Linked DNA regions of Homo sapiens: regions 1, 2 and 4 are each linked to region 3. Evidence: fine-mapped QTL for protein levels in blood plasma. A gene starts in region 3. Each other region holds a variant in brackets. All regions are shown on one strand. Distances are between the middles of the regions. Region 1 overlaps GCNT1 (glucosaminyl (N-acetyl) transferase 1). Region 2 has its middle 70 kb from the start of GCNT1. Region 3 holds the start of GCNT1 (glucosaminyl (N-acetyl) transferase 1). Region 4 overlaps GCNT1 (glucosaminyl (N-acetyl) transferase 1).

What was found. PIP is the chance, under the fine-mapping model, that this variant and not a neighbour inherited with it causes the effect. The UK Biobank Pharma Proteomics Project read protein levels with antibody pairs (Olink). The fine-mapping took linkage between variants from a reference panel, not from the people measured, so its PIPs are less certain.
Region 1: its variant is fine-mapped to the plasma level of the GCNT1 protein (UK Biobank, PIP above 0.99).
Region 2: its variant is fine-mapped to the plasma level of the GCNT1 protein (UK Biobank, PIP above 0.99).
Region 4: its variant is fine-mapped to the plasma level of the GCNT1 protein (UK Biobank, PIP above 0.99).

What each region holds. Positions count from the first base shown.
Region 1 is chr9:76,505,716-76,512,797 of GRCh38, reverse strand. It overlaps GCNT1 (glucosaminyl (N-acetyl) transferase 1), which reads right to left. Exons shown (of 4, transcript NM_001490.5): 4 at 5,382-7,082. Among named protein-coding and RNA genes, the nearest start is that of GCNT1, 50 kb to the right of the region's middle. RefSeq lists an enhancer at 1,148-1,648. The variant G/C (reference allele first, on the strand shown) is at 2,639.
Region 2 is chr9:76,524,815-76,532,996 of GRCh38, reverse strand. No RefSeq gene overlaps it. Among named protein-coding and RNA genes, the nearest start is that of GCNT1, 70 kb to the right of the region's middle. The variant G/A (reference allele first, on the strand shown) is at 4,187.
Region 3 is chr9:76,454,581-76,462,762 of GRCh38, reverse strand. It overlaps GCNT1 (glucosaminyl (N-acetyl) transferase 1), which reads right to left and starts at 3,581. Exons shown (of 4, transcript NM_001490.5): 1 at 3,458-3,581; 2 at 2,586-2,703. RefSeq lists silencers at 2,197-2,266, 3,257-3,796 and an enhancer at 2,537-2,646.
Region 4 is chr9:76,495,012-76,502,705 of GRCh38, reverse strand. GCNT1 (glucosaminyl (N-acetyl) transferase 1) reads right to left here. Exons shown (of 4, transcript NM_001490.5): 3 at 1,645-1,790; 4 at 1-467. The coding sequence starts at 324. Among named protein-coding and RNA genes, the nearest start is that of GCNT1, 40 kb to the right of the region's middle. The variant T/C (reference allele first, on the strand shown) is at 1,893.

The DNA.
Region 1 (7,082 bases), 51 kb before region 3:
CATTGGCAAGAATGTGGTAGGACTGGGAACACTGTTGGTGGGATTGTAAATTGGTACAGCCATTATGGAAAACAGTATAGAGCTTCCTCAAATAACTAAAAAATAGAACTACTGCATAATCCAGCGATCCCACTTCTAGGCATATAACCGAAGAAAATGAATCAGTATGTCAAAAGGATATCTGCTCTCCACTCCCATGTTCATTGATGCGTTACTCACAATAACCAAGATATGGAAACAACCTAAGTGTGTGTTGATGGCTAAATGGATAAAGAAAATGTGACACACAAACACACACATGCATGTACACAATGGAATATTATTTGGCCATGAAAAATAAGAAAATCCTGCTGTTTATGACAACATGGATGAACCTAAAAGACTTTCTGTCAAGTGAAATAAGCCAGACACAGACAAATATTGCACGACCCCACTTACATGTGGAATCTAAAGAAGTCAAACTCATAGAAACAAAGGTAGAAAGTTGGTTGCCAGCGGCTGGGCGTGGGGGGGGATGGGGAAAATGGGGGATTTGGGTCAATCGGTACAAACTTTCAGTTATAAGGGAATAAGTTTTGGGGATTTAATGTACAGCATGGTGACAATAATAATAATACTTCATTGTATATTCATATTTGCTAAGGAACCTCTGATAGCTTCTAAGCCCTGCTCTTCTCCTGCTTCTCCCCTTTCCCTGAGCCTGCCTTCCGCCTGCCCTCATCCACTTGGTGCTTACTGCTCTTCCTCCTTTCTCTCCTCTTTCTCTCCACACACCCTTTGGGTGGTTTCAGTAAGACTAGTGGATTAATTCTGTTTCTATCCCTTTTATTTCTCAAGGCATTATGGAATCTTGGCTCACTGCAACCTCTGCCTCCCGGGTTCAAGCGATTCTCCTGCCTCAGCCTCCTGAGTAGCTGGGACTACAGGCGCGCACGCCACCATGCCCAGCTGATTTTTGTAATTTTAGTAGAGATAGAGTTTTACCACATTGGCCAGGATGGTCTCGATCTCTTGACCTGGTGATCTGCCCGCCTTGGCCTCTAAAAGTGCTGGGATTACAGGCGTGAGCCACAGCGCCCAGCCAGCACATCTTGCTTTAAACAAGAAATGCAGGCAAGGCGTGGTGGCTCACGCCTGTAATCCCAGAATTTTGGGAGGCTGAAGCGGGTGGATGGCTTGAGCTCATGAGTTTGAGAGCAGCCTGGGCAGCATGGCGAAACCCCATTTCTATAAAAAAAAAAAAAATACAAAAATTAGCCAAGCATGGTGGCGCATGCCTGTGGTCTGAGCTACTCTAGAGACTGAGGTGGGAGGATTGCTGGAGCCCAGAAAGTCCAGGCTGCAGTGAGCCGTGATCGTGCCACTGCACTCCAGTCTGGGCAATGGAGTGACACCCTGTCTCAAAGAGATGTGCTGCACTCACAGCAGGCCAGGTTCTGGGGAAGAAGGTGGATGGTTAAAATGGTAAAATAGAGATGAATGGATCAGAGAAAAACATTTTTTCAAGCGTTTATTATGGATTCATGCCTTTCTTTGCTCTTTTGTAAATTGGGCCAATTTTTTATAAGTAGTGCCCATTCCCAAGGTTGTTATGGAGTGAAAGGAGGTAATACATGCAAAGTGCTTTGAACATGCAATAAGTAAATGCTCAACAAATGCCAGCTGTTGCCATGATTAGCGCAGTGGGCTTTGAGGAACATACTTAAAGGGGCATTCTCCTTTGAGTGGAGGGGCACGAAAAGCTTTCCTGAAGAGAAAACACATCTTCTTTGCATCAAGTCAATTAAGGGAATTCTAACTGCGCCAGGAAGCGTTTACTAATGAGTCTAATGGCAAAGGAAATAAATTATAAATACCCAATAATGTTTAAGCCAGTGATAGTGGTATCCGTGTTTTGCAGAAATTAAAACAAAACAAAACAAAAAACACCGGTTTCTATATCTTAAAGGTCAATAAACCTTCATATGAAATGCACAAAATTATCTAGTTAAACAAGATCCTCCTCCTGCACCAATACTGCTCATCCAAGTTACTCCCACAGTCATATGTTCGGATGGAGGCTACTGGAGAGTATGAATCTTCTGGAGTCCTCCTGCTGAAGGGGAACATATGTTTCCCACTGGCATGCAGCTCAAGGAAACAGGCCACCCTCACCTAACAAGCAATTAAATCAACATGTATTGGATATCAGAAAATGAAATCCCATAGATACGTTCCAAGGAGCTAGAGGCAAAACTGCTGCCAATCTAATCATCCTCAGCTCTTGTAGTCAGATGGAGAGTGCCAGTGGCCTATAGGATTGGTTATTCAGGCTACTGCTGCAAAAGGTTCTCTTCACTGTGGGTATACAATGGGGCTATCTTACAAGGTTAATCAGAGTATAGGACCTTGACACGGCTAAGCACTAATGGTTACATCTAAAACATGCCTGTCAGTAGGTGAGAGGAGAGAAATCATGGCTCCTTCCTCCCCTAAATAAAGGCTGGGGCTGGGGAGCATAAGACTCCCTAAGGCAAACCATATGTGGAAAAAGCTCCAAATACATATTTGGCAACAATTTTATGGAGCTGGAAGGAGTCATTCTCAAAATATGAAGATGTGACTTCAGGAAATTCTGAATGCTCCTTTCTGTTCAATA[G/C]TTTTCATAAATGAGATCACATTATATGTAGTCTTATTTCTCAATATGGTCTCTCAAGTATCAAGGATATTTTAAAAAACCAAACACCAAAACTGGTAATTTGATACAGAAATTTTCTTTTAATTTGAATCATCTTTATTGAATTATAATTTTTCATATTAGCCATTTCCATTTCTTATTGTACTTCTATGAATTGTTACATCCTTTGTTCATTTTTCTCTTGGAGTCTTCATGTTTAAAAACTATGGGCCGGGCGCGGTGGCTCACGCCTGTAATCCCAGCACTTTGGGAGGCCGAGGCGGGTGGATCATGAGGTCAGGAGATCGAGACCATCCTGGCTAACAAGGTGAAACCCCGTCTCTACTAAAAATACAAAAAATTAGCCGGGCGCGGTGGCGGGCGCCTGTAGTCCCAGCTACTCGGGAGGCTGAGGCAGGAGAATGGCGTGAACCCGGGAGGCGGAGCTTGCAGTGAGCCGAGATTGCGCCACTGCAGTCCGCAGTCCGGCCTGGGCGACAGAGCGAGACTCCGTCTCAAAAAAAAAAAAAAAAAAAACAACTATGTTAGTATGAGGGAGTTGTGGGGAGTGACTATAAAGGGTACAAGGTTTCTTCTTGGGGTGATGAAGAGGTTCTAAAATTGATTATGGGCCAGGCGTGGTGGCTCATGCTTGTAATCCCAGCACTTTGGGAGGCTGAGGTGGGAGAATCGCTTGAGCTCAGGAGTTTGAGACCAGCCTGGGCTACATAGTGAGAACCTGTCTCCATATTTAAAATACAAATAAAAATAAAATGGATTGTGGTAATGGTTATAATAAAAACCACTTAGATATACACTTTAAATGGGTAAACTGTATAAGTGAATTATCTCAATATAACTGGTTTTAAATATTAGCATAAATCATTTCCATATTAAGGTATTAAGCCTCCCTCTTCCAAAATCTGTAGGCAAATGTTCTAATCTCATTTGCCTTTTACTTTCTCATATTCAGAAGATATATATTTTTAAATATATAATCTGCTCCTTAATGAATCTTATTGCTTTTATTTGGAAAATTCAGTCACCCATCCAAAGATAGTCACTAGTATGTTCTTCTAGCTTATTTTCATATTTTTCATCTGGATTTTGGTGTACATTATAAAGCCATAATCTAGTATTCTCCAAAAGTTTACCTTCCTTATGTTCCTAGGATTTTTGGAACATTTTATTTATACTCACATCTATTTCGGGGCTACTACTGCCTTGGTCTAAGGGTTCAAATGTAAACTATTAGTACATTTTCAATATTTTTTAGCTGTGAAATATGGTTTTATATCTAGTATCTTAAGACTTCATGACTTTCCTTTCAAAATATTCCTATTCTTGCACATCTTTCAGATGAAATTTAGGATACTCTCAAGCCATTGAGAACATTAATAGACTTGCATTCAGTTAATTCACAAATAGAAGAAATGTTTAAAATATTTCATTTTAGGGCTGGGAACAGTGGCTCACGCCTGTAATCCCAGCACTTTGGGAGGCCAAGGCGGGCGGATCACCTGAGGTCGGGAGGTTGAGACCAGCCTGACCAACATGGAGAAACCCCGTTTCTACTAAAAATACAAAATTAGCCAGGCATGGTGGCACATGTCTGTAATCCCAGCTACTCCGGAGGCTGAGGCAGGAGAATTGCTTGAACCCAGGAGGCGGAAGTTGTGGTGAGCCGAGATCATGCCATTGCACTTCAGCCCGGGCAACAAGAGTGAAACTCTGTCTCAAAAAAACAAAAAACAAAAAACAAACAAAAAAATCATTTTATCAGCTAGGAGCAGTGTATTTTTCCATCTATACAGGTCTTCTGTTATCTTTGTATAGTTTCTGCACACATGCTCAGTTTGTCTATAAATGTGACAAAGCTTGTTGCCACAACAAATGGTGATATACTACAATTATATCTTAAAGCTACCTTTGTCTATTAACTTTTGGATATCTGGAGGTTTTTGCTAATTTCATATTAATTCTAAGATGAGATTCCCAGGCTTTCTACTTGGACCATTATATCATCTGCAATAATAACAATAGTTTTTTCTTTCCCAATAGTTGTAATTCATTTCTAGTTTGGGTCCTACTGCATTAAAAAAAATTGTATCAATATTCTGATGACAAGCCCTGAAAACATTAAAGCATGTATTAAAAACAATATCTTTCACAAGCAGGCTTATAAAGGATATGTAAAGCTCTCAAGCTTTAGAGAAAAATCTGAAATTCATCAATTTTGCCACTTTCTAGAATGTTTCATCTAATTTAGGGCTAAAGAACACCTCGAAGTGTTTAATAGATCCGGTGTGACAATATCTGGAGAAGGCACTCAATATTGGGGGCATGGGGTCCCTTTTCCCTCAGCTGTGCCCATCACATTCAAACCAACAGCAGGTGATAGCTCCTATTAACCTATGCTACTAACTGGAAAACTGTTCTCTTTCTTCAGTAGACACAGTTGAAGTGTCTAATGTCCTAGAATGCAATACTGGCCATTCAATTGCATACTTCTAAAGCCTCCCAGTAATCTTTTTGCATACTCTGTGTTAGTTTGTTTTTTGAGATACTCTCTTCCCCTCTGACATTTGTGCCTTGAGAATGAATCTTATTTTTAATCACTACTTGCACACACTCATTTGTTACAAAGTACATCAACTACCAAATTTAACGTTTGAGTGCTGGTTGCTAACAGAAAAAGGAATAAAAAATTTCTGCAGACAAGGCCTTGGTTTCTGAATGGATGATTTTAATGGTGATATGAACTGATTCTAACTGCATTCTGTCGCACCCTCATTCAAAAGAGTAAAACTTACAGTGACCATGTTTATCATGAAATAGTATTGCATTTATTTTAAACTGATGGTCCCCAACTTACTTAAAAATCGTAGAGGCTTAACGGTTTTTCAGCTTTACAACAGTGCACAAGTGATATGCATTCAGTAGAAATTATACTTTGAGTACCCATACAATCATTGTTTTTCACTTTCACAACAGTATTCAGTAAATAACATGAGCTATTCAACACTTCATTATAAAATAGGCTTTGTGTTAAATGGTTTTGCCCAACTGCAGGCTAAATGTTCTGAGAACATTTAAGGTAGGCTTGGCTAAGTTATGATTTCAGGTAAGAGATATTAAATGCATTTTCAATGTGATATTTTCAAATTATAATGGGTTTACTGGGACCTACCCACATCATAAGTTGAGGAGCGTCTGTATTTAATATGAGAAATTATTTTTATTTTTCTGAACAACTGAAAAGGTCCAATTCAATCGACCCTACAGAGAAAACGAACTGAAACATGGCCTCTTCCTACCCAAATCACTACAAGAGAAAATCTACTTATGTTATTTAAGTGAACTGTACTTAATAAATGACATAAATATATGTTTAGAAACAACAACACTCCATTTTCAAGGCTGAGTGGCTGTTTACTGAGATCTGGGAAGAGCCTCAGTAACTGCCTGTAAAATAAAGAACAATTTTTATTAACTCTTTTCCTTAGTAAGAAAGATGTAAATCTTGATGCAATACTCATTAACTAGAATCCTTCCATCACAAAATTTTTGTTCACATATGTTTAAGGACTTTTTGTTTGTTTGTTTGGAGATACGAGTTTCACTCTGTCACCCAGGCTGGTGTGGTGGTGGCATCTCAGCTCACTGCAACCTCCGCCTCCTGGGCTCAAGAGATTCTCCTGCCTCAGCCTCCCAGGTAACTGGGATTACAGGTGCAAGCCTGGCTAATTTTTTTTTTCTATTTTCAGTAGAGATGGGGTTTCGTCATGTTGGCTAGGCTGGTCTTGAAATCCTGAAGATTACAGGTGTGAGCCACTGTGCCTGGCCATGTTTGACTTCTAATTTGTGAATGTGATTTCTCAGATTTCTCTATAAAACACCTTCAATGACAGTACAAAAATTAGTGTTTAATAATTACTATAAAGTAATTTAAATAATTTCTATATTTCTCACCAATCACTTGGGTTTTGCTTCTCCTGCATGTATCATAGGTTTCCTTTTCAAACCATCGTTTTGATTCTTTAAATTTCTTGTCACAGCATCATAAATTTCATTTGCTGTAAATTGTCCTTAAAAGTCTAAAAGATACTTTGAGCCCCAATGAATGGATCGTATATAAATTCTGCCGCAGGCATTAGGGATAGTGTTTGAACACTTTTTAACAAGTTCCATTTTAGAAAGATGAGATATCACAGCTACATAGAAGATGGTAAGTTTACAGTTATAATGTGGCGCTTGGGGAAATAGACTCTAAAATCCTATGTTTACATTTATGATGAAGAAAAAAATCCCTCAAAACCTGCCAATTTAAATATAAATCAGATGCAGTCACACATAATAAATGTGCTAAGATAAATAACTTTGTATATTTGTAATTTTTAAAAATTTTAATTTCCAATTTTGCCAA
Region 2 (8,182 bases), 70 kb before region 3:
CAACATAGCAAAACCCCATCTCTACTGAAAATACAAACATTAGCTGGGTGTGGTGGCACATGCCTGTAGTCCCAGCTAGTTGGGAGTCTGAGGCAAGAGAATCGCTTGAACTGGGGAGGCGGAGGTTGCAGTGAGCTGAGATATCACCATGGCACTTCAGCCTGGGTGGCAGAATGAGACTCCATCTCAACAAAAAAAAAAAAAAAAAGGAGAGAGATGCCACTGAACAGATAAGTTAGGACTAAATGGGGAGGCCCTTTGCTTTGGCTGCATTGACTGCCACTCTGTCCTTCAGTAACACTTTTACCCTAGAAAAGGGATGTTGAAGAATTTAAAAGTTCTTGGGAGACTCATACATACTCAAATCAAAATGTTCATATATGCTACTGAGGACCGTATCTTAAAACAAGAAAAGAAAATGCTCATATAGCACCTTATATCTTATGTCAGTTATTTGTTTCTTTCAGAATCATACTTGATATTTCCAGCTGATTGTGAGAATATTCTTCTACTTAGGGTTTTCTTTTTTGAAAAAATTTTATTTTTTTTTTTGTAGAGAGAGTTTCGCCATTTTGCCCAGGCTGGTCTCAAACTACTGAGCTCAAGCGATCCTCTAGCCTCCGCCTCCCAAAGTACCGGAACTTTTTTGGTGATAGGGTCTCACTCTGTGAGACCAGGCTGGAATGAATACAGTGGTGAGATTATGGCTCACTGTGGTCTTGAATTCCTGGGCTCAAATAATCCTACCGCCTCAGCCTCCCAGTAGCAGGGACTACAGGCCACCATGCCCAGCTAATTTTTAAATTTTTTGTAGAAATGGGTTTTTACCATGTTGTCCAGACTGGTCTCAAACTCCTGGGCTCAAATGATTCTCCTGCCTCAGCCTCCCAAAGTGCTGGGATTACAGGAGTGAGCCACCGCACCTGGTCAACTTTCTTTTCTCTTGTTGTTGAGACAAAGTCTCACTCTGTTACCCAGGATGGAGTGCAGTGGCACAATCACGACTCACTGCGGTCTCATACTCCTGGGATCAAGCAATCCTCCTACCTCAACCTCCCAAGTAGCTGGGACTACAGGCCACCATGCCTGGCTAATTTCTAAAGTTTTTGAAGAAGGCCAGGCATGGTGGCTCATGCCTATAATCCTAGCACTTTGGGAGGCTGAGGTGACGGGATTGCCTGAACTCAGGACTTGGAGACAAGGTTTCACCATGTTGCCAAGGCTGGTCTTGAACTCCTGGGCTCAAGTGACCCTCCTGCTTTGGTCTCTCAAAGTGCTGGCATTACAGGGTGAGCCACTGTACCCACCCTTGATTTTCTTTTAAAGCCAGAAAAGCGAACAGCCTGGTTGAGAATTGGGGGCCAGTTAATGTTCCTCTCACCTAAGAAACCAAACCAGTCCAGCAACCTCTTTCCAGTATGTTAGCAATGTGGACAGAGGAGAGGACAAATAGAGAAACCTAATGAAATAGTTCTTTTCTGAAAACATCGCTGTTTTTATTTTGTTTTGCTTTTAATCTGAGAGCAAACTTTCTGGCAGTGCCCTCCCATCAAGGAGTAAATAGTTGAGTGGTTGCTGAAGGGTGGTTGGCAGGAAGGCTGATTATGTTGACTCAGTTGACCGTGGTGTTTTCTGAATAGTAGAGCCCACAGAACTGCTCTCCCTGATTCTAGAACCCACACAAAAAATCTGGGTTTGGGATTTAGGAAAAACAACAGAAGGTTTTTAGGGTCCATGTACCCATAGAAAACTGTAGCTTCCTGCTTTTATAAAAAATCAATTTTGAGTATATAGTTAGTATATTTTTTCTCAAAATAGCAAATCCATTTGAGAAATCAACAATTTAATAACAATGTTTTTTTAAAAATTGAAATATCTGGCAAATGATTAAACATGGCCAATTTACAAGCAACTTTTCAATCTTAGTGAAAGGGCTGATTTGGATAGAAATCAACAAAATTGTCAGGAGGGGCCATAAGTGAGGGAAGAGGGAAGAAGCTGCTGGAAAAAAAACGAAAGGAAAGCAGTTACTAGGGACAATGTCTCCATTAGTCACAGCAGGCAGAGTGCCTGCGACCGACAATACTTTCAGAGGCCTACAGAAAGTGGTTTCATTTTTATTTCCGTTAAAATCAGAAGAAAAAAATGAATATATTATAATGGACCCAGCCTGGATTATATTTATATTTACACTAATGCAGTTGTGAAATACAATTTTTATTGTTTTTTCTTAAGAAGGAAGGAGCCCACAGAGGCAACGTGGTTGGGGCCTAAGAAAGTCCTCATGTGGCCCTGGCAGTTACTAAATAGGTTGGTTCAAATGCCTAAAAAAATACAGCCCTGTGGTTAATGAAATGTCTTCAGTGACGTTAACATTGATAGCATCCACATTTCCCTAGCTGAGTGGGCCCCCTCTACAGACTACAGGATCTCAGCCCACCTTTTAAAGCTTCCCCAGCCATAACTAGAGACCCCTTCCAAGTGCTCAGTACCAAGGCCAATCAGATTTTTTTTTTTTTTTTTTGAGATGGGAGTCTCACTCTGTCACCCAGGCTGGAGTGCAGTAGGTCCATCTCGGCTCACTGCAAGCTCCACCTCCTGGGATCAAGAGATCCTCCTGCCTCAGTCCCCCTAGTAGCTGGGACCACAGGCACACGCCGCCCTGCTCAGCTAATTCTTGTTTTTTTGTTGCTGTTGTTTGTTTTTTTGAGACGGAGTCTTGCTCTGTTGCCAGGCTGGAGTGCAGTGGCGCAATCTTGGCTCACTGCAGCCTCTGCCTCCCAGGTTCAAGTGATTTCCCTGCCTCAGCCTCCCGAGTAACTGGGACTACAGGTGCGTGCCACCACGACCGGCTGATTTTTTTTTTTTAATTGTATTTTAGTAGAGATGGGGTTTCACCATGTTGGTTAGACTGGTCTCGAACTCCTGATCTCAGGTGATCCGCCCACATTGGACTCCCAAACTGCTGGGATTACAGGCGTTAGCCACCGCGCCCAGCCCCAGTCAGATTTTTCTGTGCTGCTCCTTTCCACTGCCAAGAAGCCCTGTTAGGAGATGCCTCGTTAGTATTACTTTAGCTGGTGTCTACTTCAGCCTTTTTATCTAGGTGCTGTTTCCAAACTTTCAGTTCCTCATGGTGCCCACACAGCACTGGAGAACCTTCCATCCCAACCCAGTGTTAAAAGCTGTGCTGCAGGCACCCAGGAAGGGGGAAGCTTCTCCGTCTATAAATCAGGGTAATATGTTTCACTGAAGTCCTGAAACATCTGTGCTTGTACCTGGAGCCTCCCAAAGTCCTTCATGTAAATAGTAACTCCAGTGAATTACTGGTCTCTGAGCCTGGGCTGAGGAACAGACAACATCCTATCTTCCACTCTCCCATTCAATCCTGTCTCTTGTCCCACGGCATCCAAACACTTTTTCCTCCAATGTTCCGTTCTTCCAGGAAAATGTACACATACCACTTTGGTGCTGCCCTACACAAAGCAGATACTTGTTTTTTATTATACACACATGTATAAAGCCAAGTATTTCAAAAACAAGTATCAATTTTCAATTTTTTTTTTAAATATAGAGACAGGGTGTCACTGTGTTGCCCAGGTTGGTCTCCAACTCCTGCGCTCAAGCGATCCTGCCATCTTGGCTTCCCAAAGTATTGGGATTACAGATGTGAGCCATCCCACCTGGCTAATTTTCAAATATTTCAAAAGCAGTTAACATCGATATATAGTATATCTGAAACAAAGCATCATCAATATTGTCAATGCAGTATGTAATTAATATGGCCTCTTTTTACCATTTAAGTTCTGGTAAACAATTTTGATCCATCATATCTAACATAAAATGTGCAAATGATAGTTCTAGAACTATAGTGAGGAGATAACGAAAGGATATTATGTTGGATGGTAAAGCTCAAGTGGTTTTGAGAGGTGACAACGTGCTAGCAGCCCTTGCTCACTCCCGGTGCCTCCTTGGCCTCAGCATCTGCTCTGGCCACACTCCAGGAGCCCTTCAGCCCGCAGCTGTGCTGTGGGGGCCCCTCTCTGGGGCTGGCCGAGGCGGGAGCCGGCTCCCTCTGCTCACAGGGAGGTGTGGAGGCAGAGGCGAGGGCGGCAGCTGGGGCTGTGGCGCTAGTGGGCCAGCACGGGTTCCAGGTGGGCGCGGGCTGGGAGCGGGTCCCACACTC[G/A]GCGCCTGCTGGGCTTGATCCAGGTACGAGCTCCCTCTGGGTTGCCGGAATGCCCGGGGTAGGTGCCCAAAAGTCCTGGCGGCCAGTGCCATTGAGAGGTGAAGCCAGCTGGGCTTTTGGGTTGGGTGGAGACCTGGAGAACTTTTCCCTCTGGCTAAAGGATTGTAAACGCACCAATCAGCACTCTGTGTCTAACTAAAGGTTTGTAAACACACCAATCAGCACTCTGTCAAGACAGACCAATCAACTCTCTGTAAAACGGACCAATCAGCTCTCTGTAAAATGGACCAATCAGCTCTCTGTAAAATGGACCAATCAATAGGATGTGGGTGGGGCCAGATAAGGGAATAAAAGCCACGCCACCTGAGGCAGCAGTGGCTACTTGGTTAACTGTGTCCCCTTCTACTCTGCCAAGGCTTTGTTCTTTGCCTCTTAGAAGTAAATGTTGTTGCTGCTCACCCTTTGGGTCCACGCTGCCTTTATGAGCTGTAACAATGAGCTGTAACACTCAGTGCGAAGGTCTGCAGCTTCACTCCTGAAGCCAGCCAGGGAGACCATGAACCCACGGGGAGGGATGAACAATTCCAGATGGGAGGAATGAACAATTCCAGATGGGAGGAATGAACAATTCCAGATGGGAGGAATGAACAATTCCAGATGGGAGGAACGAACAACTCTGGACGTGCCACCTTTATGAACTGTAACACTCACAGCAAAGGTCTGCAGTTTCACTCCTGAGGCCAGTGAGACCACGAACCCACTGGAAGGAACGAACAACTCCAGATGCGCCGCCCACTCACTGCGAAGGTCTGCAGCTTCACTCCTGAAGTCAGCAAGACCAGCAACCCCCCAGAAGGAAGAAACTCTGGACACATCTGAACATCAGAAGGAACAAACTCGGGACACAACACTTACCGCGAGGGTCCACGGCTCCGTTCTTGAGGTCAGCGAGACCAACAACCCACCAATTCTGGACACATTTTTGCTCCAGGCACCTTCAGAGAAATGGTCAAGAAAGCAGCGTAAAGATCAACTGGAAATGAAAATTTCTGGATATGCTTTTACTTATGAAGAATATAATGGGGGGCCCAGTATAGTGGCTCATGCTTGTAATCCCAGCACTTAGGGAGGCAAAAGTGGGAGAATCACTTGAGCCCAGGAGTTACCTGGGCAGCTTAGCGAGACCTCATGTCTACGAAAATAAAAATTAAAAACTTAGCCACATGTGGTGGTCCCAGGTACTTGGGAGGCTGAGGTAGGAGGATCGCTTGAGCCTGGGAGGTCGAGGCTGTAGTGAGCTATGATTCCCACCACTACACTTAAGCCTGGGTGACAGTGAAATCCCCTCTCTCGAAAAGAATATAACAGCTATCATCACAGCCTGCGAAGTCAGTCACTTTGCCCTGAGGCATGTTCTGTGTTCTGAGGCAAGGATAGGAGGCTGACCCCTCAACCACCTACTTTTCTATTCAGCCACTGAAGCCTTCTGTGGCCTTCCCTGAGACCTGTGAAACAGTTGGGAGACCATTAGTACAGCAGTTCTTAAGCAGGCCAATTTTTTTCCATTTGGAGGCATTTCAAAATATCTAATGATCTTTTAAAAATTTTATTTAAACTGTTGTCTTTTAGTGGGCAAGGTCAAAGAATGCTAAAAGTCTTGCAAGGTAGGGATAGTTGGGCAAAAGAAAGATTTTCCTCTTACCCAAAAATATCAATAACACCACTATTGTGAGGTATCTGTGTAAGAACTGGGGAATTTGATTGAAGGATTTTTTTTTTTTTTTTTTTTTGAGACGGAGCCTTGCTCTGTCACCCAGGTTGGAGTGCACTGGTACGCTCTTGGCTCACTGCAACCTTTGCCTCCCAGGTTCAAGCGATTCTCTTGCCTCAGCCTCCGGAGTAGCTGGGATTACATGCACCTGCCACCACACGTAGCTAATTTCTGTATTTTTAGTAGAGATGGGGTTTTGCTATGATGGCCAGGCTGGTCTCAAAACTCCTGACTTCAGGTGATCCACCTGCCTTGGATCCCAGAGTGCTGGGATTATAGGCATGAGCCCCCGCACCCAGCCTAATTGAAGGAATTTCTTTCTTGCTATTGTGTTTAACTCCTGTATATGTGTTACAGGTATGGAAGGATGATATGTGATATTAGCTGATATGATTTCCTACATTCACTTTTTTGTCCCACGAAAAGGACAGAGATGCCCTCCTTCCAGGTTCCTCATGGCTCAGAAGTAGCATGAGAGAAGATTATATTGGTCTTGAGTGGTGCATGAAAGAGTCAGAAGACCTCACCAGGGATCCTAGACAAGGATAAAAGGATGTGCCTCAAAGGAATGAAGGGTGTCTGTCCTTACAGGAAATTGTGTAAGAACACAGTGAATTGATTCAAGTCAGTTTGGTCGTGCTCAACCCTTAGATTGTTTCTGTTAGAAGATAGTAGACACTAAAGAAATTTGAGGGAGTGAGATTTAGCTGTGCTTTCATAATCTCACAATCAGGTTACAGGAAAGAAATCTTAGCCCAAATCCTGTCACCCACATAGGTGTTTACTATGCAAACATTCATTAGTCACCACTAAGGAGTTGGTACTGTCCTGTTGGTGTAATGAAATTCTAGCTCTGTACTCTTTTAGGTGATCCAATCACACATTGCATGAAATGCTTACAAGCAGCACACAACAGCACTTCAGAAGCAGGAGTCTCTCTCTTCCAACTGGCATCATTCAGAAATCCTCCTATACCAACAGCTGCTTATAGGACAACTCAGGGAGCAAGCTAGATTTTAGGTCTTCCTTAATTGTTACACCCCCACCCATACAAGAGTTAGGAGTCTCTTTAAGGTATTTTTAGCCAGTCCTCATATTTTGAATACCTTTAGCATCACAAATGAGAGCTCATTTCTAAGAATCATGCTAAATAACTGCTTCTTGACAAAAGTTACTAGTTTCTCCAGTGAAATCCCTTTTCAGACATTCAGTATGTTTAATAGCAAAGTGTTAGTTTGATGAAGCCATCTCTGGGATGGAACCTTTTCTGATTTAATGTGAACTGATCATGCCTTAACTATGCATTATAAATTATCTGAAGGTTTTGGCTTCATCTAAGTAACAGATATTGGCCAGGCGTGGTGGCTCACACCTGTAATCCCAGCACTTTGGGAGGCCGAGGTAGGTGGATCACCCGAGGTCAGGAGTTCAAGACCAGCCTGGCCAACATAATGAAACCCTGTCTCTAAATAAACAAATAACAGATACAAAATATCACGATGTATATGCTGAGATCTTTTAAAATAAGTTACAGTCACTGTAACACAATGGAATCTGCATGGGTCCCAATGCTATGGGGGCCAAGTGAGATCTGCACCTGCAGATCAGTCACCACTTAAAATACTCTGGGTACTATGCAAGTGCTAAGGAAACATCTGGAGCCAAAGGCCAGTAGAGGACTGAGAGACCCGGAAGCAAGGTGACTGTCTCTTCACTCTCAGTTATTGGCAGGAATTAAGAGCTGAGTGAGGGGGAAAGGAGACTAGAAAGAAAAACCTTAGAGGAAGGGCTACTGCGAATAGAGTAGCCACTTAACCCTGAAGAATTTTTTTTAATCAATTTTTTTGGACTTGAACTATCAACAGAATTTTTAAAAAATTATTTACAGAATTAACAAAATTATTTCTTTCAGATAGGTGTGATGGTTAATACTGAGTGTCAACTTGATTGGATTGAAGGGTGCAAGGTATTGTTCCCGGGTATGTCTGTGAGGGTGATGGCAAAGGTGATTCACATTTGAGTCAGTGGACTGGGAGAGGCAGACCCACCCTCAGTCTGGGTGGGCACCATCTAATCAGCTGCCAGTGTGGCTACAATAAAGCAGGCAGGAGAAGATGGAAGAGGAGACTTGCTGAGTCTTCTGGTCTCCGTCTTTCTCCTGTGCTGGATGCTTCCTGCCCTTGAACATCAGACTCCAAGTTCTTCAGCTTTTGGACTTTTGGACT
Region 3 (8,182 bases):
GTTATCTTTATGATAAAGGTGTTTCAAGGCGTCAGATGTTTAAATTTACAAATAGCTTCTCTAGTCCTGAAGAGTTTCAAGTTAATTGTTAAGCTTATAAATGTTTAGACCATCTCAGAAACATTTAGACCATCTTAAATATAGGTTCATTTTGTTCCTCAACCAAAGATGACTTTGTTCTCCGGGGAACATTTGCCTATGTCTGGAGACATTTGGGGTCATTTAACTGCAGGGAGGGTGCACTGGCATTTAGTAGGTAGAGGCCAGAGATGCTGCTAAACATCCTGCAATGCACAGGACAGCCCCCACAACAGAATTTAACTGGCCAAAAATGGCAAAAGTGCCACAATTGAGAAAGGCTGGTCTAAACATATATGGCATTTGCCTCAGATAGGAAACGTGACAGCACTAAGCCACAAATCCAGTGACAAAGCCAAGAATACAGACAGTCTCCACAAGAAACACATATGGTTATATGAACAGTCATTTGGGAACTCCCTTTTTAAGACAGGGAGTTAGACATTTGACATACTGACCTGGAACCATGAATACATTTCTCATTAGAATAAATAAAAATAGTGACAAGAGTCCTTGGTTGGCTCTATAAAAAAAAAAAAAATACAGTATAGCTGAAATACCACACACTTCATAGAAAACAGAATTTGACAGTCAGAAGGGATCATTTCCAGTAGTAATTTCTGTTTTCTACCACTTCATTTCATGAAAAATGTACAATATCTACATCACAGTTCAGAATTTTCCATTCATCGGAGAATATAATCACCGTGTACAGTAGCAGTTTTTAAGGCAGAGTTTTGCAAACAGATGATGCATGAAACAAATTTGATTTTATTCTTTGTGGGATTTTTGTTTTGAGACGGAGCTTCACTCTGTCGTCCAGGCTTGAGTGCAGTGGCACGATCCCTGCTCATCCTAACCTCCGCCTCCCGGGTTCAAGCAATTATCCTGCCTCAGCCTCCTGAGTAGCTAGGATTACAGGTGCCCACCACCACACCTGGCTAATTTTTGAATATTTTTGTAGAGATGGGGTTTTGCCATGTTGGTCAGGCTGGTCTTGAACTCCTGACCTCAAGTGATCCACCTGCCTCAGCCTCCCAAAATGTTGGGATTACAGGTGTGAGCCACCATGCCCAGGCTCTTTGTGTGTGTTTTTTTTTTTGAGACAGACTCTCGCTCTGTCACCCAGGCTGGAGTGCAGTGGTGCAATCTCGGCTCACTGCAACCTCCGCCTCCCGGGTTCAAGCAATTCTCCGTCTCAGCCTCCCGAGTAGCTGGGATTACAGGCGCCTAGCCACCACGCCCAGCTAATTTTTGAATTTTTAGTAGAGACACCATCTTGGCCAGGCTGGTCTTGAACTCCTGACCTCGTGATCCACCCGCCTGGGCCTCCCAAAGTGCCGGGATTACAGGTGTGAGCCACTGCGCCCGGCCCTCTTTGTGTTCTAAAAAGGAAAAAATATGAGCCAATATTTAAAATCAGGCTTTACATTTTTTATTTTTAAGTAAAAGTTCTCAGCTATTCGTGGAAAAAAAAAAAAAAAAAAAAAGCTGCCTACACTGTATGGCTGAATGGGAATTCCTGCATGGATACTCGGTGGAAATGGCCAATATCCACCCAGCCTTAGCAGGTTCCTCTGCAGTCACCTGGGCCCAACCAAGCACTCTTGTGCATTACCTGTTTAGTCCATGTGGATAAAGTGGATTTTGTGATCCCAGTTTTAGGGAAAAACGTTTTTCTTACTGTTAAGCAATTCAATTACAAACGGAAAAGGAGTAACTCCTTAAAAAGTGAGTGGAAGCATTGCTATCATTAATCAAGAATGAACTATAATTAATGAAGGATAGAATCTAGTACAAACTTGGGGCCAAGGCTAAGGAGATCCTTTACAGGGCCAAGTTGAAGGACGGGCAGAGGAGGTGGCAGTGACCGTCAAACCCTCATCATGAAATGGAAAAAATATCAACCTCTCGGCCAATAAAACTTTTTAAAAGTAAATTCATAGTTTGGTATATTGTATTTTAAAATAAAGGAGTTTGCCATTTCTAAGAAATCAGTTTCCCAAAACTACCATTTTAAGGGCCCGAAAAAAATTCCTTTAAGAAAAAGCAGGTATCTACACAGTCTGAGTTTTCCTCCCTGCTAGAACTGAAATCTGTTACGAAAGCCTCCAGCAGGGGGGCCTGCCTGGAATTGCCTAAGCTCCTAGCAGGTAATTTACACTGATCTTTAAAAACTACTAAGCCCTCCTCCTCCCCTCTATAAAACAAACCGGCCTTTCAGAACAGCTCTGGAAGGGGGGCAGAATGCCAGACGAAGAGACAACTTCCAGACCACGTCTCTCACCTCCCACCCATCAAATTCAGCCCACAAAAAGCTGTGGCCGCATTCTCATCTCAAGGCACCACGGCTTTCTTTGAACACCATATATCTTCCCAATTGGCCTCTTGCCCCATTATGTGTAAAAAACCGACTCTCTTTTCTGCAGAAAGAAATAACAAGGCAAAGGGTGTACAGGGCAACGTTTATATGCATCTACAGCATGCCAGGTGCCTACAGAACCTACCTCGGCCTAGGCGGTCCGTGCCCTAGCCGGGATCTGCAGGCGCCCTCATCCACGCTGGGAGACGGGAAGAGGAGAGGGAGGCGTGACAGGCGAGGGTGCCTGTGCTGCGCAGAAAGCGCTGCCAGGAGAAAAGAAGCAGTGAGCAAGGGCTTCTTCCATTTCAAAAACCTAATAACCAAAACTTGGAGGAATCTGCCTGAGATACTTAAAAAAAAGAGGAAAGAGAAACCTAGGAGGGGGTAAAATGCTTTTAAGACGAATCACTTGTTTTCGTAATAGACCCTGCGCGCGAGTTTCCTAGACTGCCGCGAGAAGAAGGAAAGCGAGGGAGCAGGAAAGGAGAGGCTTCGGAGCCCCTAAACTAACGTCTCTTTTCTTATTAGTAATAGTTTGCTCCAGGGTGAGTCATTTATTATCCTAGCGTTGGCCTCTTTATCAGTAAAGTAGGGGTGAAAATGCATCTTAGCCGGGCTGGCGTTAGGATTCAATGAAGTTAAATGAAGTTAAGCCCCTGGCACCCATGGGATGGCAGCGAGTCTGTTCGTTCCCTGCCTATCCACGCCCGCAGCCAACCCCTCCGACATCTAAGCTACACGGACCAGGGGCAAGAGGCCAGAAAGTGACTTTCAGGGGACACGGGGCACCGGCGTCCCAGCCCCACTGAGCGGACGGAAAATGAAGGTGGAAGGAAGAGGCGCCGCTCCATTCCGGTCCCGGGCGCACCCCGGTTCTGCTTCCTCCTCCGCGGGGGAGCCCAGCCCGCCCGGGGCCACGGGGCACTGGCTGAGAGCCGGCTCCCTCCCACCCATCCTTCTCAGCCTTCCCCCACCGCCGGGCGGCCGAGCAGGGGAACACGAGGGAGAGCCGGTTACCTGGAGTGGGCGTCTGACCCCGGAGTCTCAGGAGGATGCCCAGCCGCTCCTGCTCCACCAAGCTCCCGCCCCGCGCCGCGCTCTAGGCGCTCCGGAGCTGCGCCTGCAGCCCTCACACCAGCGTGGCCCGCCCCGGGGCCGCCCCCAGAGGCCCCGCCTTTCTAGGCCCCGCCCACCACGTCCCCGCCTCGCCCACCTGCGCGAGCTCGGGGCTGGGGACTTGCTGCGGACTCGCGGTTCCCGCCTACAGGCGAGGGCGCCCTCTGGGCACTGACGTGGTCTGGGAGTAGCGCTGCGATCCTAGTGCTTCCTCGCTCCTCTTCCTCACTGTGCTCTGATTCTTAAGAGGTGTGTGAGCGGCGTCTTTTTAAACATTTTATGCCTCCCTTCCTCGAAAGCAGGAAACTCGAGAAATGCTGCCTTTTCTGATTTTAAACATGAAAATATGTTACAGAACAACAATAAAATTAAATTCCAAGGTTCTCGATATGTAAAGTTTAGAGATAACCATGTAGGTGTTTTTTTCTCTCCCCTAACGAACCTTGCTTCCTAAATTTAGCATTTAAGAACTCATTACATTCATGTGTATTTCCACATAAAAATTAAGATCAAATTAAACTGTGGAACAATCCACAGTGCTGTGGAAAGTAGGAAAAAACCTTCCCCGCCCTTATAGCACAGATCTTTGTGTCAGTTATAAAAGTTGACACAGTTCTCTTTGTAACAAGGGGAATATTGTGTCTGTGTCTTCTTTCGTTGGATTTTTAGCTCCTAGAAAACAGAACGAGGTCTTATTTGTTTCCATGTTGTTTAAAAAAAATTCTGGCCGGGCGCGGTGGCTCACGCCTGTAATCCCAGCACTTTGGGAGGCCGAGGCGGGCGGATCACCAGGTCAGGAGATCGAGACCATCCTGGCTAACATGGTGAAACCGCGTCTCTACTAAATATACAAAAAATTAGCCAGGCGTGGTGGCGGGCGCCTGTAGTCCCAGCTACTCGGGAGGCTGAGTCAGGAGAATGGCGTGAACCCGGGAGGCGGAGCTTGCAGTGAGCCGAGATCGTGTCACTGCACTCCAGCCTGGGCAACAGAGCGAGACTCCATCTCAAAAAAAAAAAAAAAAAAAAAAAAATCCAACTCAGAGGCCATTAGACTGTGATATGTTTGACACTTGCCTGATTTGTCAACAAAAATTAACATAAGATGATGGTATAGAGGAAGAAAGACTTCCCCTCTACTCTCTGAGGCTTGGATAACTAAGTCTATGAAATAAATTGACTGCAGGTAGATTAACAAGAGAAAAAGTACACAGATTTCGTGTAGGGGGTATCACAGAAAAGAAAAACTAATATTCCCTCTGCCTCCCCCAACAAAAACTGAGATTTTAGGAGCTTGTGTATCCTCTTCATTGGGGAGGGACAATTTAGGGGAGAGGAAATGATTTTGGGAAAAACTCCTGAACTCCTTCAATGGCTAGCTTTGTTTAATATCTCATGAAATTTTTCATGAGCAATTCAAGCATAATTGTTAAGAGCAAGTAGATTAGGTAAATGTAAATGGAATAAAAGTTTATAAACTTTTAAAAATAATTTGTTTTATAAAATTTGTCTACTTAAAAATAGTTTTAAAAATCTTTTTTGGTGACTTGAAATTTCGAACATATTAAATTAAGTAATAGATATTCATTAAATGTCTGAGTCATTTGTAAGTTAAAATACTGACATGTTAATTGCTAAACATAAGTTTAAAGTATAGCCGGGGCTGGGCACAGTGGCTCATGCCTGTAATTCCAGCACTTTGGGAGGCCGAGGTGGGTGGATCACCTGAAGTCAGGAGTTTGAGTCCAGCCTGGCCAACATACCAAAACCCCGTCTCTACTAAAAATACAAAAATTAGCCAGCTGCGGTGGCGTGTGCCTGCAGTCCCAGCTACTCAGGAGGCTGAGGCATGAGAATCGCTTGAACCCGGGAGGTGGAGGTTGCAGTGAGCTGAGATCGTGCCACTGCACTCTGGCCTGCGTGACAAAGCAAGGCTCCATCTCAAAAATAAATAAATTAATTAATTAAAAATAAAATATAGCTGGCTGTTTGCAATGGCTCACGCTTGTAATTCCAACACTTTAGGAAGCCGAGGTACAAGTATCACTTGAGCCTGGGAGTTTGAGATCAGCCTGGGCAGCATAGCCAGACCTCACCTCTACAAAATAAAAATAGATAAATTAACCAGGGGTGGTGGCCAAGCAATAGATTTATGAATTAACTTTTGGAATATATCTTGTTTGTCAGTTGGATACTGCCTGTATACCATAAGTGTAATCCATTTTGTTTGTGTATGTGACAGGGTCTCACTCTGTTACTCAGGCTGGAGCACAGTGGCGCAATCACAGCTCACTGCAGCCTCAACTTACCCCTGCTCAGGTGATTCTCTCACCTCAACCTCCCAAGTAGCTGGGACTACAGGTGTGTGCCACCATGCCCGGTAATTTTTTGGTATTTTTTGTAGAGATAGGGTTTCACCATGTTGCCCAGGCTGGGTTTGAACTCCCACGCTCAAGCGATCCACCCACCTCAGTCTCCCATAATGCTGGGATTACAGGTGTGAGCCACCTTGCCCAGCCCACTTATTTTTAATGCCTGCAATAACATACACCCATAAATCTATACAAGTAGTTTAGAAGGTATTTCTGGAATGCTTAGGGGTGTATCAGTCAGGGCCCAGTCAGAAAACAGAAATCACAGCAATTACTTTTACAGAGAATTTAAGGTCATGAAGATTGGCAAGGCAAAAACATTGTAGTAACAGAGAGAGAGTAACTGCAGGAAGCAGCTGCCATGCACAGAGCTGGGGAGAGGGGAAGTGTTGGGGTTATCAGAACCTAACAGCCAGGAGAGGGCCCCTGGTTGGCTGGGAGTCAGACCTCAAAGGAGGGGGCGGTACCCAGCTGGTGCTTTTATCTCTGAAGGTAAATATTGAGGCTGGATGGGAGAGGGTGGATTAAAACAAACAAACAAATCTAAGAAACTGGAACCAGCTGTTGCTGCAGCCAGGGAGAAGAGCCATTGCTTGGTAACATGGACAGGAACAGTAAGCAGCTATAAAGTAGCAAGTCCCTCTCCTCAAGCACCCCTTATAAGCAAAACCTTATAGGAAATGTGATTTGCTAAGTCCCAGCCCTGGCTCACAAAGCAGAAGATAGAAGCTTGAGTTTGAACTCTAAGACATACTTCAATAACCAGCACAAGGAGCAAACTCATGATCACAAACACCCAACTCTCCTAATATTATAGATGTGGGAAAGTGTCTGATAAACACAGCTGTCATAGTAATGATTAATACAATAGCAATATATTCTTAAAATGTCATAATAAAACTATAGTTACAAGTACAATCAAATAACGGGACAGAGGCAGGGCATGGTGGCTTATGCCTGTAATCCCAGCACTTCGGGAGGCCGAGGTGGGCAGATCACTTGAGGTAAGGAGTTCGAGTTCCAGCCTAGCCAACATGGCGAAACCCCGTCTCTACTAAAAATATAAAAATTAGCTGGGTGCGGTGGCACATGCCTGTAATCCTAGCTACTGGGGAGGCTGAGGCACGAGAATCGGTTGAATCTGGGAGGCGGAGGTTCCAGTGAGCCAAGATCATGCCACTGCACTCCAGCCTGGGTGACAGAGCAAGATTCCATCTCAAAAATAGATAAATAAATAAGAATAAATTAAAAAAAAAGTAAGGGGATGGTGTTGCTTGACCTATACTTTGTGTTACTGGAGACCAGTGAACATCCTCTCCCGGCTGTATTTTCTGAGAAACCACTAACTACATAGAACCACCTTTCCCCAAATGACTTAGGTAATCATCATGGATAACATCCTTTCACACTTACAACAAGGCCATAGACATGCGCTCCAAATTTCCATTCTCATCTTATAAATGGTTAGCTGAACCATTTGCCCCTACTGATCAATCTGGGCAAATACCTTACTTGATCAAACTTCAATGAGGCTTTTCTCCTTCCATCAGGTCTTTGCCCTTTAATCTAGTCTCAGCCTAAACCAGCATTGGAATTTGGAATAAGCCCCTTAATGTCCTGTATTAGTCTGCTTTCACATTGCTATAAAGACATTTCTGAGACTGGATGATTTATAAAGAAAAGAGGTTTAAAGGCTGGGTGCGGTGGCTCACGCCTGTAATCTCAGCACTCTGGGAGGCTGAGGCGGGCGAATCACAAGGTTAGGAGTTCGAGACCAGCCTGACCAACATGGTGAAACTCTGTCTCTACTAAAAATACAAAAATTATCCAGGCGTGGTGGTGCACGCCTGTAATCCCAGCTACTCAGGAGGCTGAGGCAGGAGAGTCGCTTGAACCCGGGAGGCGGAGGTTGCAGTGAGCTGAGATCATGCCACTGCACTCCAGCCTGGCGACAGAGTGAGACTCTGTCTAACAAAAAAAAAAAAAAAAAAAAAAGAAAAGAAAAGAGGTTTAATTGACTCACAGTTTTGCCTGGCTGGGGGGGCCTCAGGAAACTTTTAATCATGACAGCAGGGGAAGAGGCACATCTTACACGGCGGCAGATGAGAGAGAGCAAGCAAGAGCAGGGAAAACAGCCTTATAAGACCATCAGATCTCCTGAGAACTCACTCACTATCACAAAAACAACACGGGGGAAACTGCCCCCACGATCCAATCACCTCCACCAAGCCCCTCCCTCACCACGTGGGGATTATGG
Region 4 (7,694 bases), 40 kb before region 3:
TTTGCGTCTCTTGATGAAAGAAGAACAGTCACTGGTCATGTTTATATAGTCGTCAGGTGTCCACCGAGGGCGCTTTTTAAATTTCACTGTTAGGATCTCAAGCTTTACCTTTTGGATTTCATTTACATCACCCTGTAAAACTTTGGTGCAATTAATATCACTACTAGGATTCTCCCCAGCAAGCTCCAAGTGTCTGACACTTACAAATTCAGGCTTTTGATGAATCCTTAAAACGGAGAAGGTGATTAGGGATAAAACAAGAACCATAAAGTAGTATTTGGTGGGATAAGAAAAAAGTCTCCTTCGCAGCAACGTCCTCAGCATTTCAAACAATAATCAGGGATTTCCTTTGTGAAGGGCAGTCTTCTATGCTCCAAGCACCAATGATTTTCCCTCCGTCGTGGCCTTGAAGGTTGTCAGTTTGCATTTATCAGAGCTGCAACGGCATCTTGAAATGAAGAGCAGCACTGAAATAAAAGAAGCAATTATAAATATAAATAAATATATATATATATATATATATATACAGAGAGAGAGAGAGAGAGAGAGTTTTTCACAATAAATCTTCTCAGGCTCAAAAAACTGTCCTCTTTGCTATGAGGTTAGGTTTAAAACAAAAACAAAGTGGCTGAATCAGAGGATAAATTGTAGTAGTACAGGAAGCCCACAGTCTCTAGTATTTATACCACAGATTGAAAAAGAAAACAAAAGAAAAAACAAACCCCAAATCCCAGTACATGGATGCACTAGAATATCTAACAACAAGCATTTTACCTCTTTGGTATGTTGAGGTGCAAAACCATAGTTGGACGCCTAGGCAATAATGATTGAACAGTCTATAGTTGATGAGTTTCTGACACTGTGCCAGAATTACCACCCCTTGTTCTTGAAATCGTTAGTAATTTAAGTTCCTCCTGACATGTTTTAATGTCCATTAGCTGGTGTCAGCAGCCCTAAAAGAGATCAGATCCATTCTGCTTTTTGCTGATTTAGGATTTGGGGCATACTTAGGGAGAAGTTTGGAAATGGTTGTGACTTCTAAGAATCTTTGAAGGAAGGGCAAGTCAACAGAATTTTCAAATTGGATTGAAAAGGCTCAGATGAAACAAAGCCCCGTTTGGGACTGTGTTGGGTTAGTCCCACAATGAGTTTAGTTCCATGCCAGAAACTACAAGAAAACAAAGTATTCATAATCCAAAAGAGAGATACAGCTTGCGTTTTCTGCATTAGTTATAACAGACTGTAATAACTAAGTCTTGCAGAAAACAATAGTGTATACAAATTGTAATTTATGACAGACCTTCATCTATATTCAAATTCCAGGAACACAACCCACTTTTACTATATGAAATGCTTACAAACATTAAATAGCTTTGTTTTCAAAAATCAATTTTATAACTTGGCAATTGGTTCTACAGCTGATAAGCGCTGCTGTTCTAAAAAAAGAAAGTCAAGTACTACCAATTTGACCGTTATAAATCTGTTCATAACAAGATTTCTAGAGATTTGACACGAGTTTTTAATGCCAGAAACTTAACTATTTCATTAGGAAATGAGTTGTGAATAGTAATAATACAAATAAAAATGAATAACTGACCATCATTAATATAAAATAATGTTAAGAAAAGTATTTAGACTTTTTACCATTTAAAAGTAAGGAAAGTCTGAATCACTTAGTGCTGATTCCAGGTGACATCCTGCCCCATTCTGAGCACTTCACATGCTGTCAGGTGTATTACATGTCCGGGCATCCAGCGATAATGATGTGCTGCACGAGTCTTTAAAGAAATCTGTGAAATTAAAAAACAATGTGACAAGGGATATATGGACACATAGTATTCACACACTCAGAAAATATGTTGGTGAACTAATCCTACATATTTGCTTTTTTT[T/C]CTCAAAATTATGGGTGGTTAACTTTTCTCTTTTAAAATTTCCTTCTCTCTAGTCTTACTTATTTTTCTAATTCTATGTTTGTGGATTGCTAAAGATTTGAAAACACCCTGAAATTTAGGTTAAGTTCTTTGAAAGAAAACTCTAGCAGCATTTCCCTTAATGTATACCAAGGAACAGTTTAACAGTCCAGTATGATTAGAAAATCCAACATATCCTTTCCCCCACTGTGAAGATTCCCAATGCTCACTGGCAAATTAATGACAATCCTGAAGCTGAATTTGTTGCTCATCTCATTTTCTTCTAACAATCTTGATCACCACCCCACTCCACACCTCTATCAGAAAGCGACCACGGGGAGCTTCGGTAACAAAACATAAGAATTTCAACCACTAAAATATCAAAACACTACAAAAAGTATGCCTTTAAGTAATTCCTGCCCCTTACTGGTTCAAGGCACATAAGGAAATCTCTATGGAATCATTAGCAGACCACTAACTAACTGAGAGAAACTTGAGTGGGTCTCAAATAACAAAGAATATAAACTTTAGACAACTGGTCCAGGAAAGCCACTAAACAAATAACAAAAACAACAAACCCTCCTCAGGGTAGGGGTAGAGATCTGATTTCCATGGTTGACACATTATAAACTATCCAGTTTCAACAAAAAAAAAATTACAAGGCATGCAAAGAAACACAAAAGTCTGGTCCACATACAGGGGGGTGGAACAAAAAAAAGCAGTCAATAAAAATGTCCCCAAGGAAGCCCAGGCATTGGATTTAATAAATACTTGAAATCAGCTCTTATAAATATGTTCAAAGAACTAAATAACTGAAAGAAAGCACGAGTATGGTATCTAACCAAATTGAGAAAATTTCAATAAAGAAATAGAATGTACAACACAAAGAATGAACCCTTAATAATAATTTATATAACAAGTTTGGGGAGGTAGAAAAATAGTTGAAAAAAATAATGTATCAATAATTAATAATAATGTATAAATACTGGCTTAATTGTAAAAAATGTACCACACTAATGTAAGATATTAATAACAGCAGAAACAGTGAGGGGGTAAATGGAAACTCTCTGTACTTTCTGTGTAATTTGTCTGTAAACAGAAAACTGCTCTAAAAATAGTCTATTAATATTGAAACAAAAATTAATTTGCACATCCAAGAAGTTCAATGAGCGCCAAAGAGGATAAACTCAGATATCCTTACCTAGACATTTCATAATCAAACTGTTGAAAGACAAGGACAAAGGATTTTGAAAATGTTAAAGAAAAGTGATTATACAACAAATCCTGAAAATGATTAACAACTTCAAATAAACAACAATGGAGACCAAAAGGCAGTGAGTGACATATTCAACGCGCAGAAAGTTTGTTGGCTAGGTGTGGTGGCTCATGCCTGTAATCCCAGCACTTTGGGAAGCTGAGGTGGGCGGATCACTTGAGGTCAGGAGTTTGAGATCAGCCTGGCCAACACTGTGAAACCCCATCTCTACTAAAAATACAAAAATTAGCCGGGCGTAGTGGTGCATGCCTGTAATCCCAGCTAATTGAGAGGCAGAGGCAGGAGAATCGCTTGAACTTGGGTGGTGGAAACTGCAGTGAGCCAAGATCATGCCACTGCACTTCAGCCTGGGCAATAGAGCAAGACTCCATCTCAAAAAAAAGGATTGTTAACCAAAAATTCTATAATGAGCAAAATCATTCAAAAACAATGAGAAACTAGGATACTCCCAGATAAATTAAAAAAAAAATTATCACTAGCAGCCTTACCCTACAAGAAATACTAAATGAAGATATTCAGGCAGAAATGAAAAGATTCTAGACAGCAACTCAAATCCACATGAAAAAATAGAAAGCAGCAGTAAAGGTATATATATACAGACAAATTTATAGTATGAATGTAATTTTCTTTGTAACTCTCTTCCCATCTGATTTAAAAGACAGCTACATTAATTTATGATGATAAAACTGTGTTGACAGGCTGACAGTGTGTGTGTATACACTTTTTTTCTTTTTTTTTTTTTTTTTGAGCTGGAATTTTGCTCTTGTTGCCCACGCTGGAGTGCAGTGCTGCGATCTTGGTTCACTGCAACCTCTGGCTCCCGGGTTCAAGCAATTCTCCTGCTTCAGCCTCCCAAGTAGCTGGGATTACAGGCACCCGCCCCCACACCTGGCTAATTTCTATATTTTTAGTAGAGACGGGGTTTCATGATGTTGGCCTGGTTGGTCTGGAACTCCTGACCTCAGGTGATCTGCCTGCCTTGGCCTCCTAAAGTGCTGGGATTACAGGGGTGAGCCACTGCACCCAGCCCTAGTGTATTTTTTATCTCATTGAGTGGACAAATTGGAACCATCATAAATTGCTGGTAGAAATGTAAATGCTTGGTGAAGCTGCTTTAGAATGTTTGGTGGGTCCACAGAAAATTAAAACTAGAGTTACCATATGACCTAGCTATTCCACTATTAGGTATATACCCAAGAAAAATGAAAACATATATTCACGCAAAAACTTGTATACAAATGTTCATAATGGCATTACTAATAGCTAAAATAGTGGAAGCAAGCCAAATGACCGTGAACTGAAGAATGGATAAACAAAATATGGTATATCCATAAAATGGGATATTATACGGGTATAATAAGATATGAAGGTCTCACACAAGTTCCATACAATGTAGATAAATAATCTAGAAAACATTAGGCTAAGAAATAGTCATTTATAATTCTGTTTATATTAAATGTCCAGAAAAAGCAAATCCATATAGACAGAAAGTAGATGAGTGTCTGCCAGGGGCTGGGGACATGGGGGAATGGCAATGAATGCTGGTAGGTACAAAGGTTTCCTTTGAAAGTTCTCTAGGTAGATAGTAGAGATTGATGTAGAACTTTGTGAACATATTGTTTACTTTAAAAGGGTAAACATTATGGTATGTGAATATTCAATAAAGCTATTATTAGAATAGTAACAATAAAGTTCACCAAAGTAAACAGATTTTAAGTTACAAATTGTGACACCGCTGAGTCTTGGGTTTTTTTTTGTTTTAAACAGGAGAAGTAGAATTATCTTAAACAGGATTTTATGGAATGTGGGTACATGAAAGGGTCACCTCGAAATCCAAATAGAAAATACAAAGTTCAAAACCAAACACTTGGATCTCACCTCAAAAAAGGCATAGGTCTTTACCACTGTCGTCTACATCCTACATGGCCCACATGCTTTGAAAAACGCTTTTTACAACGTAAAATCACTAGTTTTGGGTTTTAACAAGATGGGTAAGTGTCTATAAAGAAGCTAAATATGTGAGAAAGCATTACTTTGTCAAAAATGCTTTTGATTTTGTCTATTTATCATCAGGGTGAATACAGAAGTCAAATCATTCGAAGGAATTGTAATTAACCAACCTAATTTCAAGACATACAACGTTTTCTTAAGTAAAACTCGGCTAAGAATCAGAAGGGTGAAAGGAAAATGAGATTTCATAGCCAAAGAGATTTCCAAGAAGAAAAGAAGTTTAAAGGGAAGTAAAAATGCGCACATGCTATACTATTTTAATGCAACTTTACCAAAAATTACACACCCACACAAGGAATAAATACCAAAATAATTAACAAAAATGTGGCCATGGGTAGTTAATACTGCTCTGCCCAATGTTCCTTCACCTTTATATTTCACTCAGGAAGCATACTCACTGAAGAATATCTGGTGGGATTTGCCAGTGAGGACAACTACAGAAGAGTAAGAAACATTCTAAATGACAAAAGCTCATGAATTCTGGGAAAGCAAGAAAAACTCAAGTCCCAAACCATACTAAGCCTCACTCGCCCAAGGCCTGCCTAATCCAACAACTGACCTGGGGCATGTCCTGAAGAAGGTCCCTCAGTGGACACTGGTCCTTTCCTGGAAGAGGAGACTTCCTTGAGGACACTACCCTATATAATTTTAAGTAGATCGCATAACCTAAGAAGAAATGAGAAATGAAATAATTCCACCGTGAGTTGGAACAGAGGAAAGCCAGTACCTGAAAGTAATGGTTCTTGGTACTTGACTTTTAAGACCAAGAAATACAAAAATACTAAATTCTAAGAATACTGAAAATAAATACTTATCTTTTATATAGTCAATAAGAAGGAAAGCTAGTCAAGGAAGGGAAAAAGAAGATAGGTATCAGGTGCCCCTAAGGTGACGATATGGTCACTAAAAGTGTTCCAACATAAAGAGAGTCAGCACCACCAGATAGACAGGGTGCCGCTGAGTGCTTAATGGAGTGGGAAGATGGACAAAATGACCTCAGGGAGAGGGAGACAGGAGGCAGAAATCAAACTGGAAAAGCAGATGGACGAGAGGAAACTGAAAAAGCATATGCACAAATCCCAGGCTGACAGGCGGGAAAGAACAGACCAGCTCTATTTACACTGCAGGATCTTCAAAGGGTGCAGGAACTGGTGCTGGTTGCACGGATCCCTCTGAAGGGGGGATGCGGAGAATGATGGAGGAGTGGTGTTGCTTTGTTTTTTGTTTTGTTCAAAGTATCCACTAGTAGCTCTTTACAAAGCAGCTGGGTTTCTACCTCAAACTTGGCAAAGACCCATCCAAGATGTAGTCTCTGCAGAGGCTCTCCCTTCCAGGGCACACCAGGCCTAATGGAAAGCAGTTCCCATCCAGAAAACAGTAGGACCCAGGCACAGTGAATAGCCTTCTCCATTTCCAGCTTGCTTATCCATATTAGTTCCCAGAACTTTGATTGTCAGCCCAGGGCAGGAGTTTTTTTTACTGGGGAATCCAAGCATGCCAAGAGAAATAAGGCTTAAATATCTTGCTTAAACTGGGAGACCCCCAAACAGTCAAATGAAACAGACTGTTCAGGGAGAGGAAAACTACCACTAACATTCTCAGGATATAGAAAACTACCACTAACATCCTCAGGATATAAAGTTAAAAATATGTTAAAAAAATATTAATGAGGCACAATATATTTTCTGAAGACAGCCAGGCCAATATTTTCACCCAACATTTTCTTCTGCTATATGACCTTGCCACTCCCCAACCAAGAAGTAGTCAAATTCCCTCCCTCTTGAATTTGAGTGGCCTTATTGAGAGGTGAAGCCAGCTGGCCTTCCTGGGTCGAGGATTGTAAATGCACCAATCAGTGCTCTGTGTCTAGCTAGATGATCGTAAATGTACCAATCAGCATTCTGTAAAAATGGACCAATCAGCACTGTGTAAAATGGACCAATCAGCATTCTGTAAAATGGACCAATCAGCAGGACATAGGCGGGAGCAAATAAGGGAATAAAAGCTGGCCACCCAAGCCAGCAGCGGCAACCTGCTCTGGTCCCCTTCCATGCTGTGGAAGCTCTGTTCTTTTGCTCTTCACAATAAATCTTGCTGTTGCTCACTCTTTGGGTCCCCACCACCTTTAAGAGGTGTAACACTCACCGCAAAGGTCTGCGGCTTCACTCATGAAGTCAGCGAGACCATGAACTCAATGGAAAGAAGAGACTCCAGACACATCTGAAGGAACAAACTCTGGACACACCATCTTTAAGAGCTGTAACATTCACTGCAAAGGTCCGCGGCTTTATTCTTGGTCAGCGAGACCAAGAATCCACCAGAAGGAACCAATGCTGGACACATCTTGGTGACCTTGGACCATCACCAAGCAGTGAGTACCATCGGACCCCTTTCGCTTGCTATTCTGTCCTATTTTTCCTTAGAATTCGGTGGCTAAATACTGGGCACCTATCGGCCAGTTAAAAGCGACTAGTGCGGCTGCCGGACTAAAGATACGG